Regions from separate parts of the Homo sapiens genome. Here regions 1 and 3 are each linked to region 2. A link means that fine-mapping ties the variant in region 2 to the expression of a gene that starts in the linked region. Tissue or cell type: esophagus mucosa. Region 2 holds a variant in brackets; each other region holds the start of a gene. All regions are shown on one strand. Distances are between the middles of the regions.

Region 1 (8,089 bases), 22 kb before region 2:
GTCCCTGGGGATCATCAGAGGCTAAAAATGTTCAGAAAGAAAACTGGCGGGGAGGGAAATGGGAGAGAGCTGGTGCCTGCTCACAGGGCTCCGGAAGGCCCCAGAGGGCTGGGGAAAGAACCAAATCTGATAGGGGAGCTGGGCACCGCAGGGCCCTCCTCTCCTGCCCCTCTTGGTCCTGGCCTGGCTGGTTGGGGGGGTAAATGGGTGGAAGAGAGTGTAGGGGAACAGGCCAGGAGGTCAGAGCCTGTGTGCTAGGTCTGGGCCATTCTTAGAGTAGACTTGGCCCTGGGGAAGACCCTTCCCACTTGGCCTCAGCATCCTTTTCTGTGGACCCCAGTACTGAGCCCCTCAGAGGAACCCAGCAGTGACTTGGTGACCTTGCCTCCGCAACCCCAGTCCACTGGATCATTCATCATGATATAACCTCGAATTAAAAAATACTAAGTTGTGCGGGGCATGGGCCAGGGGGTGGCTAACGCCTGTAATCCCAGCACTTTGGGAGGCCGAGGCGGGTGGATCACGAGGTCAGGAGATCGAGACCATCCTGGCTAGCATGGTGAAACCCCATCTCTACTAAAAATACAAAAATTAGCCGGGCGTGGTGGCGGGCGCCTGTAGTCCCAGCTACTCGGGAGGCTGAGGCAGGAGAATGGCGTGAACCCGGGAGGCGGAGCTTTCAGTGAGCAGAGATTGTGCCACTGCACTCCAGCCTGGGAGACAGCGAGACTCTATCTCAGAAAAATAAAATAAAATAAAATAAAATACTAAGTTGTCCAACATAGTTCTCATTTTCCTGTGTTTACTACTGTCGTACTTTGTTTAAATATCAGGCTTCAAATTATTTCAATAAATGGATCTCCTTTTGAGGGCCACTGTTTTGGGGGCTCCTTAAATGCAGGCACTCTGCCTACTGGGTGACGCAGCAGTGCCCAGTACCCTCAGTACAGGAGCTGGGGTCTCTGTGTTTTCGGGGAGGACCTTGCAAATTCTCGAGTGGCAGCTTCCATGGGTGGCCACTGTTGGAGGGGACTCCTCATTCACCCACCCTTTGTTTACTGGTGCCTGCCTTTCCCCACCCACACAGAGGGCCGGGCCTGCGCGGTGGTCTTTGACTGCAAGTTCATTGAGACATCAGCGGCATTGCACCACAATGTCCAGGCGCTGTTTGAAGGTGTCGTGCGCCAGATACGCCTGCGCAGGGACAGCAAAGAAGCCAACGCACGACGGCAAGCAGGCACCCGGAGGCGAGAGAGCCTTGGCAAAAAGGCGAAGCGCTTCTTGGGCCGCATCGTAGCTCGTAACAGCCGCAAGATGGCCTTTCGCGCCAAATCCAAGTCCTGCCACGACCTCTCGGTTCTCTAGGTCCCACCCGCTCCCACTATGGTGGGAGACGAACGGAAGGGTTGGTGGGCTGGCCCAGCCAACTGCCCCGGGTGCCTCAGAGCAGGCTCAGACTCTGGGTCCCTCGGAGCTGCCAGCCGGGCACCCCCAACCTCATGGTCATGGACAGATAGACAGTGCTGCCCTGCGAAGTGGCTCTCAGGGGCCAGTGAGGGCTGGGCCCACAGAGATGCATGCGCAGGCTCATATGCGTCCCAAGCAGCCGCAGCGCAGCCGCCGGGCAGGCCTGCGTGCCGGGAGAGGACTCTGCCTTTTTTCACAGCCCGGGTGTGCCTGCCCTGGAGGGAGGCTCTTCAGTGCGGTAGCTATTTGTTTACATGCAGATTTTTGTAATAAAGGCTATTTCCTGATAGTCATGGCTGTTGACTCTCTTTCCTCCTATCTGGGCGCTTCAGGAGCTGGAAGGATTTCTGAAGTTGAGGGATGGGGGCTCACTGCCCCACCCTAGTGTGTGGCCATGATGTGTTAATGTGAGGGTCCAGATTTAGCCAGCTGGGATGGGCATCGGGTCTGGTTAGAGGTTCAAGGAGCAGGAGACACAAACCCCTCCCAGTCCCTGTTATCCAGATTCTTCTCTTTCTGCACTGGGGCCTGGCGTTGCCCAACTGATTGAGGGTTCAATCACTTCACTGTCCATAAAGGGAAACAGGCTGCTCAGGGGAGCACATTCTGCCCTGGGTCTCACAACCAGGCAGGAACCCTGGGTCTCACAACCAGGCAGGAACCCTGGGTCTCACAACCAGACAGGATCTGGCTCCACAGCTGGTATTTCTGCCCTGTTCCCTCTTGAGGGGCTGGAATCAGCTGAGGTTGGGGATAGAGACCTCCGAGGGGTGGTTTGTGAAGGCACACACAGCTCCACATGGCTCCTCCACCACTTCACTGGGGTTGAGCTACGGAGGAGGCACTCACTGTTCTCTCTACCATGAGTATCCAGGCCAGAACATTCCATGCTCAGCATTGGCTAATTCAGTTTTGGTGGGAACAGCTGCCGGGAGCCCGCCCTGCCTGGAATGAGAGGTCTTGCATTTGTATAGGAAGGTGTACTCGTGCTTATGTTTAGGGATGCACCTGTCTCCCTGCCCACCCATGCCCATGGCTCCCTCACCCTCGGCACAAGTGCTGCTAAGAGTTTTTATCTACATGGTCTCAGGAAAAACCATCCCCATCTGGTGCTGGGTGGGAAGTGGCTGAGTGGGGACTGGTATACAGGTCTGCCCATCTCCAAAGCCTGGAGGCAGCCTGGGGCGAGGTGGGGGGCAGTTTCTAAGAAGGTTCTGGGCCAAGGTCCATACATTCCTTCCTTAGTTCAATTTATTCAATTTATTCATTCCCTCACCCTCGGCACAAGTGCTGCTAAGAGTTTTTATCTACATGGTCTCAGGAAAAACCATCCCCATCTGGTGCTGGGTGGGAAGTGGCTGAGTGGGGACTGGTATACAGGTCTGCCCATCTCCAAAGCCTGGAGGCAGCCTGGGGCAAGGTGGGGGGCAGTTTCTAAGAAGGTTCTGGGCCAAGGTCCATACATTCCTTCCTTAGTTCAATTTATTCAATTTATTCATTCCACAGACTCCAGGGAGCCCTGGCAACCTGGTTAGAATCCTGATTGCAGCTTATTGAATGGCAGGAGGAGGCTTGAGGGCTGCCCCTCCATGTACAGGGGAGCGCTGAGATTCACCCACGTGCTCCCCAGGGCAGAGGTAACTGCTCAGAGCTGTTGCTGCTCTGCCCCTCCTCCCCACATACTTCAAGGAATGCAGAAGGCATGGTATTTTCAGATCAAGTGAGGGTCCCCAGGCCTTCCTGGCTCTGTCACTTATTGACTGTGTGACCCTAGGCAAACCACTCAGCTTCTCTGTGCCCCAGCATGTGCCCAATGCCCCTTCAGAACGCAGTATGTGGCATAATGAAGGTATGTGCTCAGAGCAGTGCTGGGCACAGAGCAGGAGCTTAACACGTGTGAAACCCCCTTCAACCTCCCCACACTACACTGCTCCAGGCTGGGTGCCAGAGTGACCCTGAAGCAGGCACTCAGCTTGTGACAAGGCTGGGGGCAGCTGGGGGTAGCTTCTGGCCTGAGAGAGACTAATCAGATGTACAGTGGGAAGGACTTCGTGGGGACCATGGGAAGCTCCAAGGCTGGAGAGGGACTGGAGACCTTCTTCCCACCCTCTCCCCTCATTCCAGACTCCCAGGCCCCAGAAGCATCTCCTGGCTCTGCTTGGCTGCCCTCATTGCGGGGAGAGCCCCTGTTCAGCCCTGCAACTCCCTCAAGGTCACCTGAGCCAGTTTAATCTTCTTAGGGGCATGAGACTGCCCACTGTCTCAGCCCTGTCACTGTTGAGTGGCCAGTGTAAGGACTTCGGGAGCTCATAGGCTGCTGCACTCCCCCACCACAGGTCCCCCTGGGGGGGGTGGTCTGGAGCCCCAATACCCACTTCCACTCATGTACTGCTCACCCATCCTTTGCAACCTCCAGCTCCTTGTCTTAGTTCCACAAGCCATGCGGAGCTGCCAGGGCAGAATGAGAGCCAGGTCATTCCTGAGTCCCTGAGTTCTGCTCTCAAAGGGCTCCCAATCTAATGGAAGAGGCAGACAATGACAAGCTGGTGTCCTCTGTGTATTAATAGAGATAGCACATGGCATGGTGTGAGGGGGAGGGGCATTCCCAGAGGAGGCTCCTGAACAAGCCTGGGAACATAGGGGAAGTTTCCTGGAAAAAGGAATATTTGAGCTGAGCACTGAAGCATGCATGAGCAGGTGCTTACCACACAGATGAATGAGTGGGAAGGGTGTTCCATGCAAAAGGAACAGAGTGTGAAAAGGTGTGGCTGCAGACACTGGAGCCTGGGAGATAAGTCAGACCAAGTCTGGAGCCACAGAAAAAGTAACGTCCAGAACCAGAGGGCCAAGGAATACCTCCTGGGCTGTGCTGGGGTCGAGGGAGTGCCAGGCCAACCATCTCCCCACCTCCTGGAGCTGGCAGTCACGGATGCTGAGCAGCTCCTGGCTTTCCAAAGTCAATGAGTAACTTGGGGGGCTGGGCGGGGCCAGGCCTGCTGCTGTGGGCCCAGTGGCCTTTTCCACTCCTGAGCAAGCGTGGCTGAACCCTCCTACCTGCTCAAGTGCCCTGCCTTGCCCCACCCAGCCCAGCCTGGCCAGAGCCCCCTGGAGAAGGAGCTCTCTTCTTGCTTGGCAGCTGGACCAAGGGAGCCAGTCTTGGGCGCTGGAGGGTGAGGGGCTGGGAGTGGAGGGGAGGGCATGGCTGAGGCTGAGGTTGGTGGTGGGGAAAGGAGAAACACTGCCCTGTCCTCGCCATCTGGGAAAGAATTCCCAGGGCCTCATCTTAGAGGGGTTGTCGATTTGTCGCTGCTCTGCCTGCCCAGCTCCATGACAAGGGCTGGAAAATGATGAGACAAGGGCCGGGCTCCTGCTCCGGGGGTTCTCCTTGTCTAGAAGGTGGCAGTGGGAGGCAGGACAGTCCCAGAGGCCCTGAGCTAGGAGGACTCCTCCTGTGGTCAAGTCCTCTGTGACCTTGGCCAGACCCCAGCATTCAGGCCTTGCCTGCAACAAGAGGTGACTTCAGGAAGTGACCCTCCAAGTCTTCAGGAACTTTCCAGCTTCAAACTTTTGTGATTTGGGGGATTGCTAGAAAATTACCACTTTGGGATCTGCGGCCTGGGGAGGCTATGGTGAGAAGGAGCTGGAGGTCTGGAGGTGAAATTCTGATAGAGTGCTTGATGGACCAAGAGCCTAGAAGCAGGGTGGCTGGGCCTGGGGGCCTTGGTGGGCCTGGCCGAGGAGCAGGGCACTACCCTGCAGGAGATGGAGAGCCTCAGCTCCTTTGGAGGGGAGGAAGAGAAGACTAGTCTGCAGTACGATCCCACTAGTTGTGTGTGTGGGATGGAAAGCCCCTCCCTACCCACCTGGGCTGGATCCTCACTGCCGTGTCCCTCAGGCCTGTCCTGACCATGGTCCCTGCCTGGCTGTGGCTGCTTTGTGTCTCCGTCCCCCAGGTGAGCTAGGCCCTGCCCCCTCTCCTTCAGGTCTTGGCTTTGGGGGTTGACACCCTTGCCCCCAACTCCACCTGGACCAATTGCACTGACCGTGAGAACGGTGCAAGGCATGGGAGGGGTCAGAGCTGGGACTATAGAGCCACTGTGGGATGAGGAGGTCAAAGACCAGAGCGCGGGTGGATGGACTAAGGTACAGCCAGGCCCTGGGAAGGGGCGGAAATTCCGCTCTTCTGTTGGGTCTCAGTGCCCACGCAGGAAGATAGAGCCTGGTGACAAGGTGAGAATCCTCCCACAGGCTCTCCCCAAGGCCCAGCCTGCAGAGCTGTCTGTGGAAGTTCCAGAAAACTATGGTGGAAATTTCCCTTTATACCTGACCAAGGTGAGCCGGAGAGCTGGGGTTGGGGCCGGGGGGATCCCTCCCCGCAAAGTCCTGCTTCTCCTTCCTCTGGCACCCTTCCTCTTGCTGTTTCTCTTTGAAATCCTGCTTTCCAGAGAGTATGTACACGTTACACAGGTTGAGTGTCCCCTATCTGAAATGCTTGGGACCAGAAGTGTTTCAGATTTTGGATTTTTTTTTTTCTTCAGATTTTGGAATATTTGCATATATATCATGAGATATCTTGGGGAATGGAACCCAAATCTAGATAGGAAATTCATTTATGTTTCATATACATCTTATACACATAGCCTGAAGGTAACGTTATACATTTTTTTTTCTTTTGAGACGAAGTTTCGCTCTTGTCGCCCAGGCTGGAGTGCAGTAGCATGTTCTCAGCTCACTGCAACTTCCACGTCCTGGGTTCAAGAGATTCTCCTGCCTCAGCCTCCTGAGTAGCTGGGACTACAGGCATGCACCACCACTCCTGGCTAATTTTTTTTTTTTTTTTTTGTATTTTTAGTAGAGACAGGGTTTCGCCATGTTGGCCAGGCTGGTCTTGAACACCTCACCTCAGGTGAGCCGCCCGTCTTGGGCTCCCAAAGTGCTGGGATTACCACTTTGGGATTTGCGAGCTGGGGAGGCTATGGCCAGAAGGAGCTGACAGTACAGAGGTGAAATTCCGACAGAATCCTTGAGTGGCCAAGAGCCCAGTGTGAGTCTGCTCCTGGGCGAATATTTTTAATGATTTTGTGCATGAAACAAAGTTCTGACTATGTGTTGACTGTGACCTGTCACATGAGGTCAGATGCGGCATTCTGTACTTGTCACATCATATTGGCGCTCAAAAAGTTTCAGATTTTGAGTATTTCAGATTTCAGATTTTCGGGTTAGAGATGCTCAACCTGCAGTGGGAATGACTAACAGATTTTAATCCTAGTGGAGAGCAGAGCTTTAGATTAAAGAACGAAATCTCGGTGGTGAGGTTTCAAGCTTCAGAAAGAAGGGCAGAGAGTTTTGGGGAGCATCAGGTCCAGGGAAAAGAGTTCTGGCTCTGAGTCTCAGTCCTGATGCTTACTGGCTGTGTGACCTCTGACAGGAGCCAGATGTCTCTGAGACTCAGTTTCCCCACATGTAAAATGAGGCCATCAGGTGGAGGAGGGGCATCTCCCAGGCCTGGCCACCGCTCCCTTCACTTCTGTTCATTTCCATCAGTTGCCGCTGCCCCGTGAGGGGGCTGAAGGCCAGATCGTGCTGTCAGGGGACTCAGGCAAGGCAACTGAGGGCCCATTTGCTATGGATCCAGATTCTGGCTTCCTGCTGGTGACCAGGGCCCTGGACCGAGAGGAGCAGGCAGAGTACCAGCTACAGGTATGGCTGGGCCAGGTGTAGGGGAGAGCAGGCAAGGCAGAGCCAGACGCTGACTCCCCTTCCCTGCCAGGTCACCCTGGAGATGCAGGATGGACATGTCTTGTGGGGTCCACAGCCTGTGCTTGTGCACGTGAAGGATGAGAATGACCAGGTGCCCCATTTCTCTCAAGCCATCTACAGAGCTCGGCTGAGCCGGGGTACCAGGCCTGGTGAGTGACCAGGGCAGCCAATTTACAGTAAGGTCAGGTGGGCCTTGATGGAACAGCAGAGAGCGAAGAGATGGCCAGACAGTTGGCATAGGACAGGGCAGCCATTTCTGTCCCATTTCTTTTTTCTTTTCTTTTCTCTTTTTTCTTTTCTTTTTTTCTTTTTTTTGAGATGGAGACTCACTGTCACCCAGGTTGGAGTGGAGCGCAATGGCGCGATCTCAGCTCACTGCAACCTCCACCTCCTAGGTTTAAGCAATTCTCCTGCTTCAGCCTCCCAAGAAGCTGGGATTACAGGCACCCGCCACCATGCCCGGCTAATTTTTTTTGTATTTTTAAAAGAGACGGGGTTTCGCCTTGTTGGCCAGGCTGGTCTCGAACTCCTGGCCTCAGGTGGTCTGCCTGCCTCAGCCTCCCAAAGTGCTGGAATTACAGGCATGAGCCACTGCACCTGGCCCATCCTGTACCATTTCTGTCCCACCTTGTTCCTCCCTACTCCACTGAGGGTGCCATCCATTCTTGGCTTCAGTTTGCTCATCTGGGAAGTAGGACGAAAAGCCGTGGCTCATCTCCGGAGTCCTGATGTGATAATGGATAGGGAAGAAAGGACAGAGGAGAAATAGGAGAGGCATGGGAGACTCTCCCCACCCTCTCTATCCCTTACAGTTTGCCCTCCCACCGTGAACCAGGCATCCCCTTCCTCTTCCTTGAGGCTT
Region 2 (8,101 bases):
AAAAATAGGTCCCAGGTGATGGGCCACGATCCATGCCCAGAACCACAAGGGTTATTCTGAGTGGCAGGCACAGGGCCAGGCCTGGCCTCAGTCAGGTGGACCTGAGCTGGCAGTGGCATCCTCAGCCTGCGGGCTTGCTCTGTCCATTCAGGGACCCTAAATGTAGGTCGGGGGCTGGAACTGCGTGCAGGCTGACGCTCGATCGGTAGGGGCTTGAGTCCCAACTCCGCTATGTGACCTTGGGTAAGCCACTTGGCATCTCCGAGCATCTACCTCCTTCCCAAATGATGGGAACCCTGATCCCTGCCTCTCAGGGTGGGTGAGAGAATTTAGTGAGGCTGACAGATGGCACTCAATAGATGCACAAATCCCTGCTCATCTGTCCTGGAGTCTAGGCCCAGGGGTCCAGAGAGGGTAAGGGCCTTGCCTGAATTGCCTAGCAGCAGAAAGGTCCCTTCTCCTCCAACTCTGAAGAAGCAAGAGCCAGGCACAAGAGCACATTTCTGGGAGGGCATATAGGGATTTTCCAGGAACAGCTCCATCCAACTGGAGAATTCCATTCCCAGCCCTGCTGCCCAGGGCCCAGGCTAAGGAGGAGACACTCCAGCTCACTCTGGTTCTGTCCAGTTCCTGCTCCTCGCCGGCAGAGCCCAGGCAGAGTGCCCCACACCCTGTTCTCTTGCTGTTTGCTGTGGGGTTTGAGGGGCCTGAGGCTCCTAGGTGCCCCCCTCGAGGCCCTGGCACAGAACAGCTGGTCTGAGCACACAGTTGGTCCTCTCCCAACCCCTGATCCCTTCCAGGAGCCCACTGTTTCCTTCATCCAGCATGTCCTAGAATTTTCCCTGGACCCAGCTCCTGCCCTCAGGCTCACCCCAGATGAACATAGACAAGCTGACATGATGGACGCTGACTTGGGGACAGATGGCACCTGACCCAGCTCCAGGGTGGGGGTTGACAAAGGCAGCTGGAGAGGGGAAAGGTGGTCAGGTTGGGACAACTGTCTGGGCAAAGGCTCAGAGGTGTGGCTGTGCTCAGGGGATTGGGACACACTGCAAAGTTTCCTTAAGGCTGGAAGTCGCCTGATAGGCACCGGGGGGTGGGAGAGTGGGGGCGTGGGAGGTAGGGGGCAGGCAGAGGGTTGAACAGAATATTTATTTGCTGAGCTGGAATTGAGCCCTAGTCCCTTTCCCAACACAGACTTATCTCTTCCCCCCACAACCATCCTCACCAGAATTTTGGCCAGAAACAAGAGGAGTCCTGTCCGAGGAGAGCCCGGCTGGCTGACTGGAATCCCAAGACATGCCAAGGTGTTAGAGGCACTGCCAGGGAGACCCCTCGGCCCTTCACACAGTGGCTATCCTCTGGGATATTCCTGTATCCACAAAATGTATTTTCTGCACACACAGGTCCCTGGGAAATGACAGGACACCCAGATCTGCTGGGAGCAGAGTTCTCATAGGGTCCCAGCTGAGCCCTGGAACTCCCCAGACCCCCTCTGCCACTCCATCTCTGCGTCAGCCCAGCACCTGTGCCCTATCCGGCTTTGGCCACCATCTCCACCCTGGGGAGGGGGAGCATAACCCCCTCCAGCCTGAGGTTGGCGCCAAGGTTTAGGAGCCAGCACAGAAGCCTCTGAGAGCCATAAGGGTAGAAAAGGTTACCCGGTACTAAACCAGCCAGCCTCGGGGTGATCTCATCCACTTCCCAAGATAAGCCCCCTCCCCCACCCTCTGGCCACTGGCCAACAGGGTAAGTCACGAGGGAGCTGGTGGAAGAGTGTGTGTGAGGGCTGGGGGAAGGATTTCAACTTGGGGTCACACTGTACATTCTGTTTTGTGATCAATTCCCCCCAACATTTACAGTATTGACAATTAGCAGTTTCCTGTCAGATAAACTATAAAGATCTTCCCCCATCACTTTTTCTTTTCCTAATTATTTCTAAAGTCTGCCAGGATGGACACATCAGAATCTCTTTGTCCAGCCCTTGAGGAGGACATGTAAACAGTGTCCAGTTTCTCTTTCTTACAAACACCAGTGCCATAACCATTTTTGTTCAAATCCTCTTACGCAATTGCCTCTCTCTCTCTCTCCCTTTCTCTCTTTCTCTCTCCCTCTCTCTATTTCTCACTCAGTTGAGATAAATTCTGCCTGGTAGCAGGTGGGAGGGCAGGCCTCACTGTGTGCCTGAGTAGTTCTGGGCCCTTCCCCAAGCCAGAGGTGCCAGGCCCAGGGCAGAGGCCAGTCCAGGGCCACAGGGTCAGGACAGTGGACAGGCTATGGTCTGCTGGACTCTGCCTGCTCGAGGCGGGCTCCCCAAGCTTCCACCTGCTCTTGCCCACCCCCAGCCCCAAGGACTAGGCTGGCCTGGACACAGGGAAAGGCCATATACAGGGTATCACATGACCCATGCGTGCACACAGCCCCCAATCCCAGGCATAGGCAGAGGTCCCAGCCTCAGGGTGGGGCCCCCACACTCCGTCCAATTCACATCTTGCCTAGTGCTCCCCAGCTCTTGCTAGAATGCTTCCATAGACCAACAGCTCACTCTCCCTCCTAAGTTGCTGCCCGGCCTTTGGGGAGCAGGTGGAGCACATGCTTCTTATCAAATCAATACCTATTCGGTAGAATCACATGATTGCTGAGGAAGGTTTGGATTCAGACACCAGGGTTTCAAACTCGACTCTGCATTTACTATTTTTGTGACCTTGGGCACAACCTTTTACATGCCCAGGCTCAGTTTCTTCATCTGTAAAATGGGTTAATAATACTTGATCATAGGGTTGCATGAAGATTAAATGAGATAATACATGTAAAGTGCTCAGCAAGGCTCACAGATGTGACCTAGTTTATGATCACAAATTATCACAAATTGAGTCCCTACTATGTCCAGTTAACAGAGAGACTCCCTCACTGGAAGCAACTCAGAGTGGCTGAAGCACAGAAGTGGTAGAGGTATGAGATGGGGTTGAAGAGTGGGCAGGGCCAGGTCACACTCAGCCTTGCACATCATGAAGGGATTGTGACATTTTTCTGACTCCTTGGAAGCAGGGGAGGATGGTGGGAGGCAGAAATGGGAGGATGTCACTGAAAGCTTTTATTATTTTTTTTAATGATTTGTTTGTTTGTTTGTTTGTTTGTTTTAGAGACAGGTCTCTATTGCTCAGGCTGGAGTGCAGTGGCATGATCATAGCTCACTGTAACCTCAAACTCCTGGGTTCAAGCGATCCTTCTGCCTCAGCCTCCCAAGTGGCTGGAACTACAGGGGTGTGCGACCACTCCTGGCTCATTTTGTTCAACATTATTTTGTTACAACATTGATGAAGAAAAAAATCTATTTCTGGCTGGGGCTACTGTCTGTGTGGAGTCTGTAGAGGACTTTCTCTGGGTACTCTGGTTTCTTCCCCCATCCCAAAGATGTGCATGTTAGATTAACTAGCTTGTCTGCATGCTCCCAGTCTGCATGAGTGTGAGTGTACTCAAGGCAATGGCATCCTGTCTAGGCCTGGTTCCCGCCTGGCGCCCTGAGCTGCTGGGATAGGCTCCAGCCATCCATGACCTTGAACTGGAATAACTGGATAAATAATTCTATTACTTGTTTTTATTAATCTTTCTTTCTTTCTTTTTTTTTTTTTTTTTTGAGATGGAGTTTCACTCTTGTTGCCCACGCTGGAGTGCAATGACACAATCTTGGCTCACTGCAACCTCCGCCTCCTGGATTCAAGAAATTCTCCTGCCTCAGCCTCCTGAGCAGCTGGGATTACAGGTGCCCACCACCAAGCCCGGCTAATTTTTGTATTTTTAGGAGAGACAGGGTTTCGCCATGTTGGCCAGGCTGGTCTCAAATCCCTGACCTCAGGTGATCCACCTTCCCCAGCCTCCCAAAGTGCTGGGATTACAGGTGTGAGCCACCACACCTGGCCTTGTTTCTATTAGTCTTTCTTACACGTGTTTCAATGTTTAATATGAGAAGCATTTGGGTCTTTATTTAGAAGTCTGATGATATTTCTATCACCAGAAATATGCTGTAGGAACTTAACTCTTGTTTATGTCAATTAGCCTATGACAAAATTGGTTTCCTTGTATGTCATTTTGCTTAAAGCTGCAATTTCCAAGAACTACATTAAGTGAGGACATTATATAAAGACTTACTATATTCTATTAGTTGTTGTCAGGCCTCTGAGCTCAAGCTAAGCCATCATATCCCTTGTGACCTGCACCTATACATCCAGATGGCCTGGAGCAACTGAAGATCCACAAAAGAAGTGAAAATAGCCTTAACTGATGACATTCCACCATTGTGATTTGTTTCTTCCCCACCCTAACTGATCAATGTACTTTGTAATCTCCCCCACCCTTAAGAAGGTTCTTTGTAATTCTCCCCACCCTTGAGAAGGTACTTTGTGAGATCCACTCCCTGCCTGCCAAACATTGCTCCTAACTCCACCGTCTATCCCC[A/G]AACCTATAAGAGCTAATGATAATCCCACCACCCTTGCTGACTCCTTTTTCGGACTCAGCCCGCCTTGAGTCCAAAATAAATAAACAGCCTTGTTGCTCACACAAAACCTGTTTGGTGGACTCTCTTCACATGGACGTGCGTGAGACAGTTATAAGCAAGACTCTAAGGCCAGCCCAGATTCAAGAGGAGAGGAATTAGACCCCACTCCTTGATGGAAAGAGTGTCAAGGAATTTGTGGTTATCCTTAAAACCATAACAGGGCCAGCTGGAGCAACATGGCGAAACCTCATCTCCACAAAAAATACAAAAATTAGCCAGGTGATGGTGCACGCCTGTAGCCCCAGCTACTCGGAAGGCTGAGGTGGGAGGATCACCTGAGCCAGGGGAAGTTTGTCTCACGTGTCCGTGTGAAGAGACCACCAAACAGGCTTTGTGTGAGCAACAAGGCTGTTTATTTCACCTGGGTGCAAGTGGGCTGAGTCCGAAAAGAGAGTCAGCAAAGAAAGGGTGGTGGATTAATCATTAGTTCTTACAGGTTTTGGGATAGGCGGTGGAGTTAGGAGCAACGTTTGGCAGGCAGGGAGTGGATCTCACAAAGTACCTTCTCAAGGGTGGGGAGAATTACAAAGAACATTCTTAAGGGTGGGGCAGATTACAAAGTACATTGATCAGTTAGGGTGGGGCAGAAACAAATCACAATGGTGGAATGTCATCAGTTAAGGCTATTTTCACTTCTTCTGTGGATCTTCAGTTGCTTCAGGTGATCTGGATGTATACGTGCAGGTCACAAGGGATATGATGGCTTAGCTTGGGCTTAGAGGCCGGACATTGTTGAGGCTACAGTGAGCCATGATCCTGCCACTGCACTCCAGTCTGGGCAACAGAGTGAGACTCTGTCTCAAAACAAAAAGCCCATAGCAAGAAGCAAAAGTTGGAGGGTTCTCGGCTCCATCCCAGGGATAACCAGGGCACAGGCCCAATGCTTGCAAGAGGTGACTTCAGCTTGTGAGGAAAGACAAGGATCTCTTTCTCTTTTCCCACTCTTTCCTCCCTAACATTTTAAATGCATGTGCAAGTGCCTACTTCATACCAGGCACTGGGCTGATCCCTGGGGACTCAGAGGAGAGTCAGAGGAGGTCCCTGGTGCCGCCAAGAGGGCAGACAGACTGACAGACATTGGCAAGCTATCTGAGGAGATGTGATGGAGGTCCCAGTGCCATGGGAACTGGAGACAGGAGCTGGTACTGCCTGGAAAGCCAGGAAGTCTTCCCAGGGCAGGGGATGCTTCAGCAGAGTCATGCTGAGTCGCAGGAACAAGACAGGTGGAGGTGGATGGTGCAGTGGTAGGTGTTCCAGCGGAGGGAACAGCAAGGCCAAAGGCCTGGCATGTTCTAGGAACATGTGACAGCCATGCCCACCCTGCTGGGAACAGATGGAGGAGGCTGGAGAGGCCACCCTGGGGAGAGGGAGTCTGAGCTTTCCTCCTTAGGGTGAGGGGGAGCCATGGTTCGGAGCAAAGGAGTGACATGGTCACGATGACTGTGGTGTAGTGGGTGGAACTGACTAGACGGACAGCCGTCATTTGGGGCAGTGGAAGATAAAGGTGGTGTAGTCCATTATTGGAACTGGGACAGGGGAGGACAGATGGGAATGGCCCCCCGGGCTGCTGGAAGAGTGGTTGTGGGGACTGGCTGTAGGGAATGGGGTAGGGAGGATGGGGGTCAGAGGCATGGGGTGGTCCACAGAGGAGAACAGCCATGCGGGGGAAGATGGTCAAGGTGGCAGCCACTCCCCCACCATCTGGAGCTCACTGCCTGGCTCTGGCTTCTCCTGGGACCCCAGCAGTTCCTTCCCTACAAGACAGGGCTGGGTGACCACAGGACCGGCCCTTCCTCCACCCACACTTGTTCCCAGCCCCAAAGACATCCCAAGTCCCAGGAGGCTTTCCAAAGGTGCTCCAAGCTGCAGTCGCCAGGAGACCCAGCTTGGGCTGGGGACAGGCCTCAGGCCGCATCTCATGAACATTTTCCTCCAACGGCACTCAGCTGATGCCAGTGTGGTCAGATGGCGACATCTAGAGGCAACTTCTGCTTCATGCTGCCTCACTCACAGAACCCCACAGCCAAAGGCTCCCCACTGGTGTTCTCATCATGCCACCCTCAGGATTTAGTAACCAAGACACCAGTCAGAGCTTGGAAGAGCTTCTCCACCCCTTCATGCCAAAGCCCAGTACAGGGCTGGCAAGGTCCCTGGGACCCCAAGTGAACCGTGGACACTCTCCCCTTCCACAGGCCCAGGAGCATGCTGGCTGGTTGACAACCTTCCCCACACCATCCCTTCACTGCTTCGTTTCAGAGGAAGGGATTCTAGCAGCTCAGCCAACTCTCCGCTCATACAGCAATGTCCTCACCTCCGCCTCACCATCCGGGATCATCCTGTGTCCAGGGCCCTGAGTGAGAACACAGAATGGCCCTCACCTTTCTGTAGTGTTCCCCTTTTTCTGTTTTTGTTTGTTTGTTTTGTCTTGTTTTGTTTTGGAGACAGGAACTCATTCTGTCACCCAAGCTGCAGTGCAGTGGTGCGATCATCTCTCTTTGCAGCCTTGACCTCCCGGGCTCAAGCGATCCTCACACTTCAGCCTCCCAAGTAGCTGGGACCACAGGCATGCACTACTACACCTGGCTATGTAGTGTTCTTTTTTTGGCGAATTGTTCATTTCCATCCACCCACACCCAAAGCCCCTCTGGTACTGGACACTCCTCACCAACTTTCCTTGCTTTTCACAGCCATGCAGCCACTCACTGTTTGCCTCCTTCTCTCTCACCTGCTCCTCCCTGAATTGTCTATCCACCACACCATCAGTCCTCCCATCCTTCCTCACTCATTCCACAGGCAGCCTGTGCACCCCCAGGGCAGGACAGGGGACCAGGACTGTAGCCACAGGGGTGGGGATGAGGAGGAGGCAAACGAGGAAACAAGAATACCCAAAAGCCCTGGTATCAACATGCAGGGAAAGTGGGGGACTGAGGCAGGACTTTCTGCTTTGCCCCCTCCCTACCTCTATGCTGATGAAGAGCCAGCCATGCCTCCAGCCCTTCCTGAGGCCACCACATGATCTTGCTTATTTTCCCATTCCAGGAGGTCACCTGCAGGGCTCCTCCCACCTAGCCACAATGGCTAGTCCCGCTGCCTCCACAGTGGCCCTGCAGCCCCATCCCAGACCCACTGCACGGGGTCACAAGCTTGTGCAGGGTGGACAGAGCAGTAGCTCATGGCAGACATTCCTTCTGTTCATCTGTTGCAGGGAAAATGGGGTGAGGCATGGGAGGGGTTCCCAGAATCCCAGAAAGGCAGAAGGAGTTGAGATCTGAGACAGAGTAGGCTTTGGAGACTCCCTCCACAGACCACTCTCCCAGGGGCTAGGTTAATGGGCCTGCTTTGGGAAGCTGGGGCAGGTGAATCACCTGAGGTCAGGAGTTCGAGACCAGCCTGGCCAACATGGTGAAACCTCATCTCTACTAAAATACAAAAATTAGCCAGGTGTGGCTGCACATGCCTGTAGTCCCAGCCACTCGGGAGGCTGAGGCACAAGAATCACTTGAACCCAGGAGGTGGAAGTTGCAGTGAGCCAAGATCACGTCACTA
Region 3 (8,089 bases), 37 kb before region 2:
ACTCCACTGCGGTGAGGTCCTGTAGACACCTGGTAACCAGGGCAAATAATCAGTCCAGGGGCCAGGCTGTGGCCAAAACCAGACCCTGGGTTCAGAGGTGCTCCCAGCCACCCTCAGACCCTTCCCACAATATCCTGCTCACACATGATCCCTCTCAAAAATCCCTTCCCACCAAGTTACAGGCCACAGGCTCTGGGGAAGCTGGGATGCAGCTTGGACTTCCAGGGAGGCCTCGAGGTTACTGAGGACCTTGGGTATCATTCCTCGCACTGCCGGAAACCTTGACTCTTAGGGGTTTCTATGAGAACCATTGGCTGCATGTGTTGACATTCACCACTATATTCCTGTAACCCGTAAGGCCTGGGACAGGGGAGTAGCCCACATATGTGTGCTACATGAGTGAATGGATGTTAATTTCTCATGAGAAGGGCAGTGGGATGTCTCTCATCCCAAGTCTAAACTCTCAAAAACTCATCATTCCTACATGGCCTCCAGTTGGAAACATATACATATACATATACATGTCTCTTGGCCAATGGCTCCTGGTCCTGTCAGTGGACACAGTGCCTGTGGAGAGTGCAGGTCCCCAGAAAGCTACCACTACTGTTCTCTTCAGGTATTTGCAACATCTGCCACTAGAGTTAGGGGCTCCTACAAGGTTCATAGAGCCAACCCGAACCTTTCCCAGAGACACCTGCCACTGGTGGCAGAGAAAGCTTGGCATAACCAGAATCTGGGGAGATACGTGTGTCTGCCCCTCCCTTCGGCACCTGGAGCCAATGTCTTCTGAATGCCAAGCCCTGATCCAGGAGTCTGAGAAGTTATTCTGCCCTCCTGAGCCTCAGCATGCTCATTGGAAAAATGCACGTGGGAATCCACGAAACTCAGAAGGAAAACTGGCTGTGGGGGTTTAGATGAAATGATAACTGCAGCCTAGCTGAGCTCAGAGCACCCCCACCCCTGCCCCAGGGCCTGGAGTTCCCTGGACCCCTTGGAGAGCTTACATGGCCGGATGGGTGGTTCCATCCCTCACACCACTCCAAGATTCAGGGGGCTCAGGGGGTGCAAATCGCAGCGGACCTAGAGGTGGCTTGGCAAATGGAATTCCCAGGAAGGTTTGGACCCCGGCATTGGCGCCCTTCACATGGACAAGACTCCCCAGCACCTGCCCCGTGTGTGTGGTCCGGATGGGACTGGCTGAGTCCTGGCCTGTGGGCAGAGAGACAGACATCACGGTTGGGTTTGACCAATCGACTGCCCTCCCAACTGTTGGTATTGCTGCTTCCTTGCCATCCTCATCTTAGCTCAAGGGACTCTGATCTGTAAACATGGGCTTTACAAACTTCCTGCCTGTAACACTCCCTTCCCGCTCTGGCTTCCTGGGCCTGTCTCCATCCCACCAGGCTGAGGCTCCTTGGGGCCAGGCATCATCATTCAGCCCTAGGACCTTCAAACAAAGGGTCACATGCCCTTGATGGGACTAGAGTGTCCTTCAACTGTGTGCCAGGTCATGTGACAGTAGGATGATGGTGGGAATTGGGCAGGCAAGTTTCTTGTCCTCAGGGATGTCATGTCCAAAGTGGCAAGAAATCATGTAAAGAAAGCATCATCCAAACCATGAGTGATGTTGGTGAAAAGAGGTGCAAGAGAAAAGTATGGCTGTGGCTGGGATATAAAAAGCACAGTGACTGGCCTGGGGACCATAGTGGGACTCTGTCTCTGCAAAAAAATCAGGAAATAAATTGGCGGGGTGTGGTGGTGCATGCCTGTAGTCCCAGCTGTAGAAAAGCCTGGCTCCAGAAAGTGGGTGAGTTTATGACTGTTTAGATGAAAATCAAGGACAAGTGCACACATCTATTCTTGTGTAAACTGCTGGGCACTGTGTGTACTGCGGTGTCAACAAGCAGTTTCCAGTGTGGGCCATGGGGACTTTGATGGCCCCTGAGGAGAAGCCAGGACTGGTTGGGTAAAAAGAGGATGGCACACATCACCTGTACCCTCCTATGGCTTGTCAATTATTTTTTCTGAATGTGGGTCCAACCCAAAATTTTGTATACATATATATTTGTCAGACAAGGTCGCCATCTGTTGCCCAGGCTGGAATGCAGTAATATGATAACAGCTCACTGCAGCCTCCACCTCCTGGGCTTGAGATCCTCCCGCCACAGCCTCCTGAGTAGCTTGGAGTACAGCTGTCTGCCACCATGCTTGACTTTTTTTTTTTTTTTTTTTGGTAGAGACAAGTCTTGTTGCCCAAGCTGGTCTCTAACTCCTAGCCTCAAGTGATCCTCCCATCTCTGCCTCTCAAAGTGCTGGGATAACAGGTGTGAGCCACTGTGCCTGGCCCAAAATATTTTAAAAGGTAGCCATCTGTGAGGCCAGGCAGATCTTCCTGCTGGGCTCCTGGTGAACTCTAGAATGTGGTCAAGGGCAGGCACGGGAGGAAGCCCTGCAGCAGTGCACCATGGGGCGGGGGGAGTATGGACTCCACCTGCGCAAATTAAATTGGGGAAGGGTTGGAAGAGACAGATCATACACTTAGGAGAGTTTCGGGTGAGAGGACCAAAGGCCGAAACACTCCCCCAGCTTCTGATAAGGGCCTGGAGAAGCCTGGCAGGCACACAGAGCCTTCACCTTTGCCCTGGAAGCCAAGTTGTGCCCTTGCCCAGGATGAGGTAAATGGCATGAGGGACACCACGAGCTCTTTGGTTCTTGTTTCTGGAGACAGATTTTTGCTTTTTCACCCAGGCTGGAGTGCAGTAGTGGGATGAAGGCTCACTGCAGCCTCAACCTCCCCTACTAAAGTGATCTCCCACCTCAGCCTCCCAAGTAGCTGGGACTACAGGTCACAGACCACCACAGCCCACTAATTTCTTTCAATTTTTTGTACACTCCGAGTCTCACTATGTTGTCCAGGCTGGCCTCCAACTCCTGGGCACAAGCGATACTCTCCCTTGGCCTTCTAAAGTGGTGGGATTAAAGGAGTGAGCCAATCGCACCCAGCCACTGTGGCCTCTTAGATCTGCTTTAGGATTTGGCGCCTGGGGGCTTCTGTTCCCCAAGGACCACTATCCTTGTCTGAGGCCCCTTTGGAGGGCTCAGGGCATCCCCCCTGGCCAAGGACGCCACACACTGAGAGCCAGATGCTGCCAGAAGCTATTACTGTTATTACCGGCCGGCAGCACCCGCTACAGCCACAATCATAAGAGGGAAATGGACTGAATCCCCACACCCCAATCCCTCACCCACTCCGACCCCAGGCTGCCTACCCGGCCTGGCATGTCCCGGCGCTCCTGGGGCCCCTGTACTCCGCTGGTTCCTTGCCGTGGTGTCCCCCAGCCCGACCCTTTCTGTGCTTCTAGGAGCCCACCTTGGGCGGCGGGGAGGCGTTGCGTGGGGCTCACGAGTTCCACGCTGTCATCTCCACCAGCTCCTACCTCCCAGGCGCCTGCCCTCCCGCACTGTCAGGTTCTGCCTCCGCAGCATTTGGCAGATCTGAGCCCGGTCCCTGTCGCCCCTCCGAGGGAGCCTCACCCTGGCCCCGGACAAGAAGCAGCAGAAGCCCACAGGCCACCGCGCTCAGCCGCGCACGAAGTCTGTGCAGCCGCATGGTCGGCTCGCTGGTCTCGGTTCGCTGCCGGCGGACACGCTGCTGTTCACCCAGAGGCTGCCCCGGGTCTGTCCAGCAGTGGATCAGTGCCTTGCCCAGCCTTGGAGTTTGGACTGGGCAGGGAGTCAGCGGGGTGCGCTGGCTTGGGCCGGGAAAGGTGGGTGTGGTAGGAGAGCGGGACTGAGCAGTCATAGGTGGGTGGGGATCTAGTGGTAGGCAGGCCCGGGCACGGCCACTTTCCTTTGCCCGGGCTCCTTTGGCATCCTCGGAAGGGGCTGTGCCATTCCTGCAGCCCTTCCGCGATCCAGGGAATCCTCTCTTCAAACCTGTCCTTGTCCACAGGCCCGATGAGCGCGCTGGGGGATCGATAGGAGGGGGCAATAAACTAGAATTGGAGACCCCAGGAGGGCTTCTCTGAGGATGTGCACGTTCAGGATCCCCCAGATGGAGAAATGGGAAGGAACTTGATCGGGGTGAAGGAACCGCTTGAGCAAAGGCAGGAAGGAGTGTCGGCGCCCTTCATTCTGGAAGTTCCTCCTTGCTTTCAGGACTCAGTTTCCTGGGTTCCCCTTCACGGCCCCTCATCTCCTTACAGTCCAGGGTCTGAGGGTCTCCGCGGTCCCCTCCCTACTCAGTCACGCCATTCTTTTGAAACGTACACGTGACCGCGGCACTTCTTAAGGAGCGCCCCCCTTTTCCTCGGTGGCTTTCAGTTTCCTCACCTCCCGCGGAGACCACGGCCATGGTCATTTATCCACTTGACAAACATTTCACGAGCCCCTGCCGGTCCAAGCTGTGGGGACGCCGTACTCCCGGGCCTATGGTGCAGCAGGGGAGGCAGGCGCGTCACCGGGAGGTCCCGAGACACTAGGATCCCTGCCAGGCCAGAGGCGACCAACCGTCCTGGATACGGGAGCTCCCGGCCAGCCTGACTTCCAGGAGGAAGCGGTGTGGGGATTACCTCCGACCGCCTTTAGTGCCCCCTGAGACCTGGTTCTGGCCTCTACGTTTCAGCCCGCTACTGGCTCGCACGACCCAGCGCCGCCGTGGTCCCTTCTCAGCGCCTTCTGCTCCAGCGACCATCATGTTCCCGGGTCCGAGCAGCCAGGGCCGCGGTCACCGCTTCTCTCGCACCTCAGGCCGAGAACCCACAACGCGGCGTGTCCCTCGCGCGACTCCGTCGCCACGCCACGCCCCCTTCCCGTTCTCCGGAAGTGCGCGGGTTGGAGCGGAAGCGCACGCCTGCTAGGATCAGCGGTGGTGGTTCCGCGATGGTAGGCGGCGGCGGGGTCGGCGGCGGCCTCCTGGAGAATGCCAACCCCCTCATCTACCAGCGCTCTGGGGAGCGGCCTGTGACGGCAGGCGAGGAGGACGAGCAGGTTCCCGACAGCATCGACGCACGCGAGATCTTCGATATCCGCCGCTGCTGGGCGCGGGCGGGTTCCGGGGGCTTGCGGTGGGGGGAGCAGTGATATCGAGCAGCTGGTGGAGCCGCATCCCAGCAGGGCGTTCCTGGCAGAGGGTTCTAAGTGGGCAAGGGCGCAGAGTCCCTTTTCCTTCACTTCCCACATCTGATTCGCTCCATCAATGACCCGGAGCATCCACTGACGCTAGAGGAGTTGAACGTAGTAGAGCAGGTGCGGGTTCAGGTGAGTCACTTCCGAGGGGAGCGAGTTGTTCCAGAGAGTCAGAAAGGTTTCTGTGCAGCAGGAGCTGGCGTGCTCTATGCTCACGAACACCGAAGGGTATCTTTGGGGAGGGAGATTGTTGTGCCTATTTTATGGGTGTTGAAACTGAGGCCCATAGAAGTTGGATGATTTGCCCAAAACAACAAACTAAGAAGAGGGACCTTGGGCTGAGGGTGGTTGACTCTTGACATCTCTCCTCCACAACCAGGTTAGCGACCCCGAGAGTACAGTGGCTGTGGCTTTCACACCAACCATTCCGCACTGCAGCATGGCCACCCTTATTGGTCTGTCCATCAAGGTCAAGCTTCTGCGCTCCCTTCCTCAGCGTTTCAAGGTCAGTTGGAGCTGAGCCCCGGGAGTGAGACCAGGCATTGAGGGTCTACTGCTGAGGATGGGGACTGGGAGAGCATGAACATGGATAGGACATCAGAGTGGGGCCTGGAAGGATCCCCATTAGCAGAGAGGAAACTGGGAGGAAGCTTTCCAAGTCGATGTGACAAGAATAAAGATCTGAGCTGGAAAGTGGAGAAAAGTATTGAAGAGTGTGGCAGGAAGGGCAGTAGGGAGCGGCAGATGGGTTTGGACCAGGGGTGGGGCACAGGCAGGCCTTTAAATCAACAGTAGTGGGCCAGTTCTTTGGATAGAATTGGAATAGCTAGGGCCGGGCGCGGTGGCTCACGCCTGTAATCCCAGCACTTTGGGAGGCTGAGGCGGGTGGATCATCTGAGGTTAGGAGTTGGAGACCAGCCTGGCCAACATGGTGAAATCTCATCTCTACTAAAAATACAAAAATTAGTGGGGCGTGGTGGTGTGTGCCTGTGGTCCCAGCTACACGGGTGGCTGAGGAAGGAGAATCAAATTGAACCTGGGAGACAGAGGTTGCAGTGAGCCGAGATTGCGCTGCTGCACTCCAGCCTGGGCAACAGAGCAAGACTCAGTCTTGGAAAAAAAAAAAGAATTGGAATACCTGTGGATGGGTTTGGGGTGTAACGGAAGGGCCAGAGTCCAAAGGCATGATTAGGAGGAAGGATCAGCTGGAGATGGTGCCTGAGGGTCTGGGGGCTGCAGGGAAAAGTGTGGGTCGGTGGGTGGGTGTTCAGGCCCTGGTTATCTCCCTCCCAGATGGACGTGCACATTACTCCGGGGACCCATGCCTCAGAGCATGCAGGTAAGTGTGGACTGGTGGTGAGGGTGTTGGCCCGGGCACCCCCTAAGCAGTCTGAGGCTTCCCCCTTGCACAGGAGTCTATGGGCAAGACTGGAGATGGGTAACTGTGTGAGTGAAATTGCCAGAGACTCCTCAGTATGGGTTATAGCCTAGACCGAAGCTGGCCTGAGAAGACTCTCCTTTGCTTACCATGTCCTCTTCTCCCAAATCCCCTCTCACCAAATATACAGGACCAGAGTGTGTCAGGCTTCAGCAGCGCAGGAGGCAGCCAGGGGGAGGGATCCTAAGAAGGCAGATTAGGTGGGCTCAGGTGGTTGAAGTAGCCTGATCAATATGTGGGGTCCTGGGAAGGAGGTGACAGGAGGGCTCTGTTGCTGCGGGGGACATATCCTATATAGAGGTTCAGAGGTAGGGCTGGCTAGCACTCTGGCCAGAGCCTAGCTTTGACTCTGCCTTCCCCACACCCTTCTTCCCACCTAGTGAACAAGCAACTTGCAGATAAGGAGCGGGTGGCAGCTGCCCTGGAGAACACCCACCTCTTGGAGGTTGTGAATCAGTGCCTGTCAGCCCGCTCCTGAGCCTGGCCTTTGACCCCTCAGCCTGCATACTGGTATCCTGGTCCCAGCTCCTGCCAGGGCTGTTACCGTTGTTTTCTTGAATCACTCACAATGAGAAACTAACATTTTGCTTTTTGTAATAAAGTTAATTTATATTCAGTTCCCAGCATGCCTTGGTGTCTTTCATCTTGGTGGAGTCATTTGGAGTTTGAGGGGGGGATGGTGGTAGTAAGTGCCTCTAAAGGGTGGTGTACTTGCAACTTTTCGTAAAATAAAATCAAAATGGAAAGAGTAGTGTACGAATGTGCCTGTATGCTCACCACCACCAGTAGAGTCAACAGTTGTTGACATATTGCAACACTGGCCATATTTATGTGTGCATATATAAATATCAGTAAGTAAGCTGCAGAGACTTGACTCTTCACTTTGAAGTACTGCAGCTCCTATAGTCAATATAAGCCTGTATAGCCACAATACTTTTATCTGATCAGAAAATGAACAGTTCCTCAACACCATCTAATACCCAGGCATATCTGGATTTCCCTAATGTGTCATCATAGTTGTTTTTGTTTTGTTTTTGAGACAAGGTCTTACCCTGTTGCCCAGGCCCAGGTGCAGTGGCAAGATTGTAGCTCACTGCAGCCTCCAACTCCTGGGTTCAAGCAATCCTCCAGCCTTGGCCTCCCAAGTAGCTTGGATTACAGGCATACACCACCATTCCTGGCCAAATTTTTTTTTCTTTGAGGGGACACAGTCTTGCTCTGTTGCCCAGGCTGGAATACAGTGGCACAATTATACCTTTCTGCAGCCTTGACCTCCTGGGCTCAAGCGATCCTCCCACTTCAGCCTCCCGAATAGTTGGGACTACAGGCATGCACCACCGTGCCTGGCTAATTTTTAATTTTCTTGTAGAGACAGGGTCTCCTAGGTTGCCCAGGCCGGACTCTAGCTCCTGGGCTTAAGTGATCTTCCTGCCTCATCCTCCCAAAATGTTGGGATTACAGGTATGAGCCACCCCAACCAGCCCAATCAAAAGAATATTTATTTATTTATTTATTTATTTATTT

The links. PIP is the estimated chance that this variant, and not a neighbour inherited with it, causes the effect.
Region 1: it holds the start of CDH16, and the variant in region 2 is fine-mapped to the expression of CDH16 in esophagus mucosa (GTEx, PIP 0.98).
Region 3: CIAO2B starts here. The variant in region 2 is fine-mapped to the expression of CIAO2B in esophagus mucosa (GTEx, PIP above 0.99).

Annotation. Positions count from the first base shown.
Region 1 is chr16:66,915,352-66,923,440 of GRCh38, reverse strand. It overlaps CDH16 (cadherin 16), which reads left to right and starts at 4,556. Exons shown (of 18, transcript NM_004062.4): 1 at 4,556-4,637; 2 at 5,363-5,420; 3 at 5,716-5,799; 4 at 7,012-7,167; 5 at 7,238-7,376; 6 at 8,063-8,089. The coding sequence starts at 5,376. It overlaps RRAD (RRAD, Ras related glycolysis inhibitor and calcium channel regulator), which reads left to right. Exons shown (of 5, transcript NM_004165.3): 5 at 1,088-1,756. The coding sequence ends at 1,365. RefSeq lists enhancers at 752-1,275, 1,276-1,799.
Region 2 is chr16:66,893,799-66,901,899 of GRCh38, reverse strand. It overlaps LOC124903700 (a long non-coding RNA gene), which reads right to left. Exons shown (of 2, transcript XR_007065089.1): 2 at 4,886-6,905. LOC107984821 (a long non-coding RNA gene) reads left to right here. Exons shown (of 3, transcript XR_001752244.2): 2 at 1,232-1,307; 3 at 1,407-2,211. Among named protein-coding and RNA genes, the nearest start is that of PDP2, 17 kb to the right of the region's middle. RefSeq lists enhancers at 1,003-1,896, 1,897-2,792. The variant A/G (reference allele first, on the strand shown) is at 4,456.
Region 3 is chr16:66,931,157-66,939,245 of GRCh38, reverse strand. It overlaps CIAO2B (cytosolic iron-sulfur assembly component 2B), which reads left to right and starts at 4,844. Exons shown (of 5, transcript NM_016062.4): 1 at 4,844-5,023; 2 at 5,180-5,259; 3 at 5,507-5,632; 4 at 6,421-6,466; 5 at 6,946-7,181. The coding sequence starts at 4,882. The coding sequence ends at 7,043. It overlaps CES2 (carboxylesterase 2), which reads right to left and starts at 3,730. Exons shown (of 12, transcript NM_001365405.1): 1 at 3,535-3,730; 2 at 1,005-1,209; 3 at 1-29. The coding sequence starts at 3,610. RefSeq lists enhancers at 3,508-4,120, 4,959-5,158, 5,189-5,238.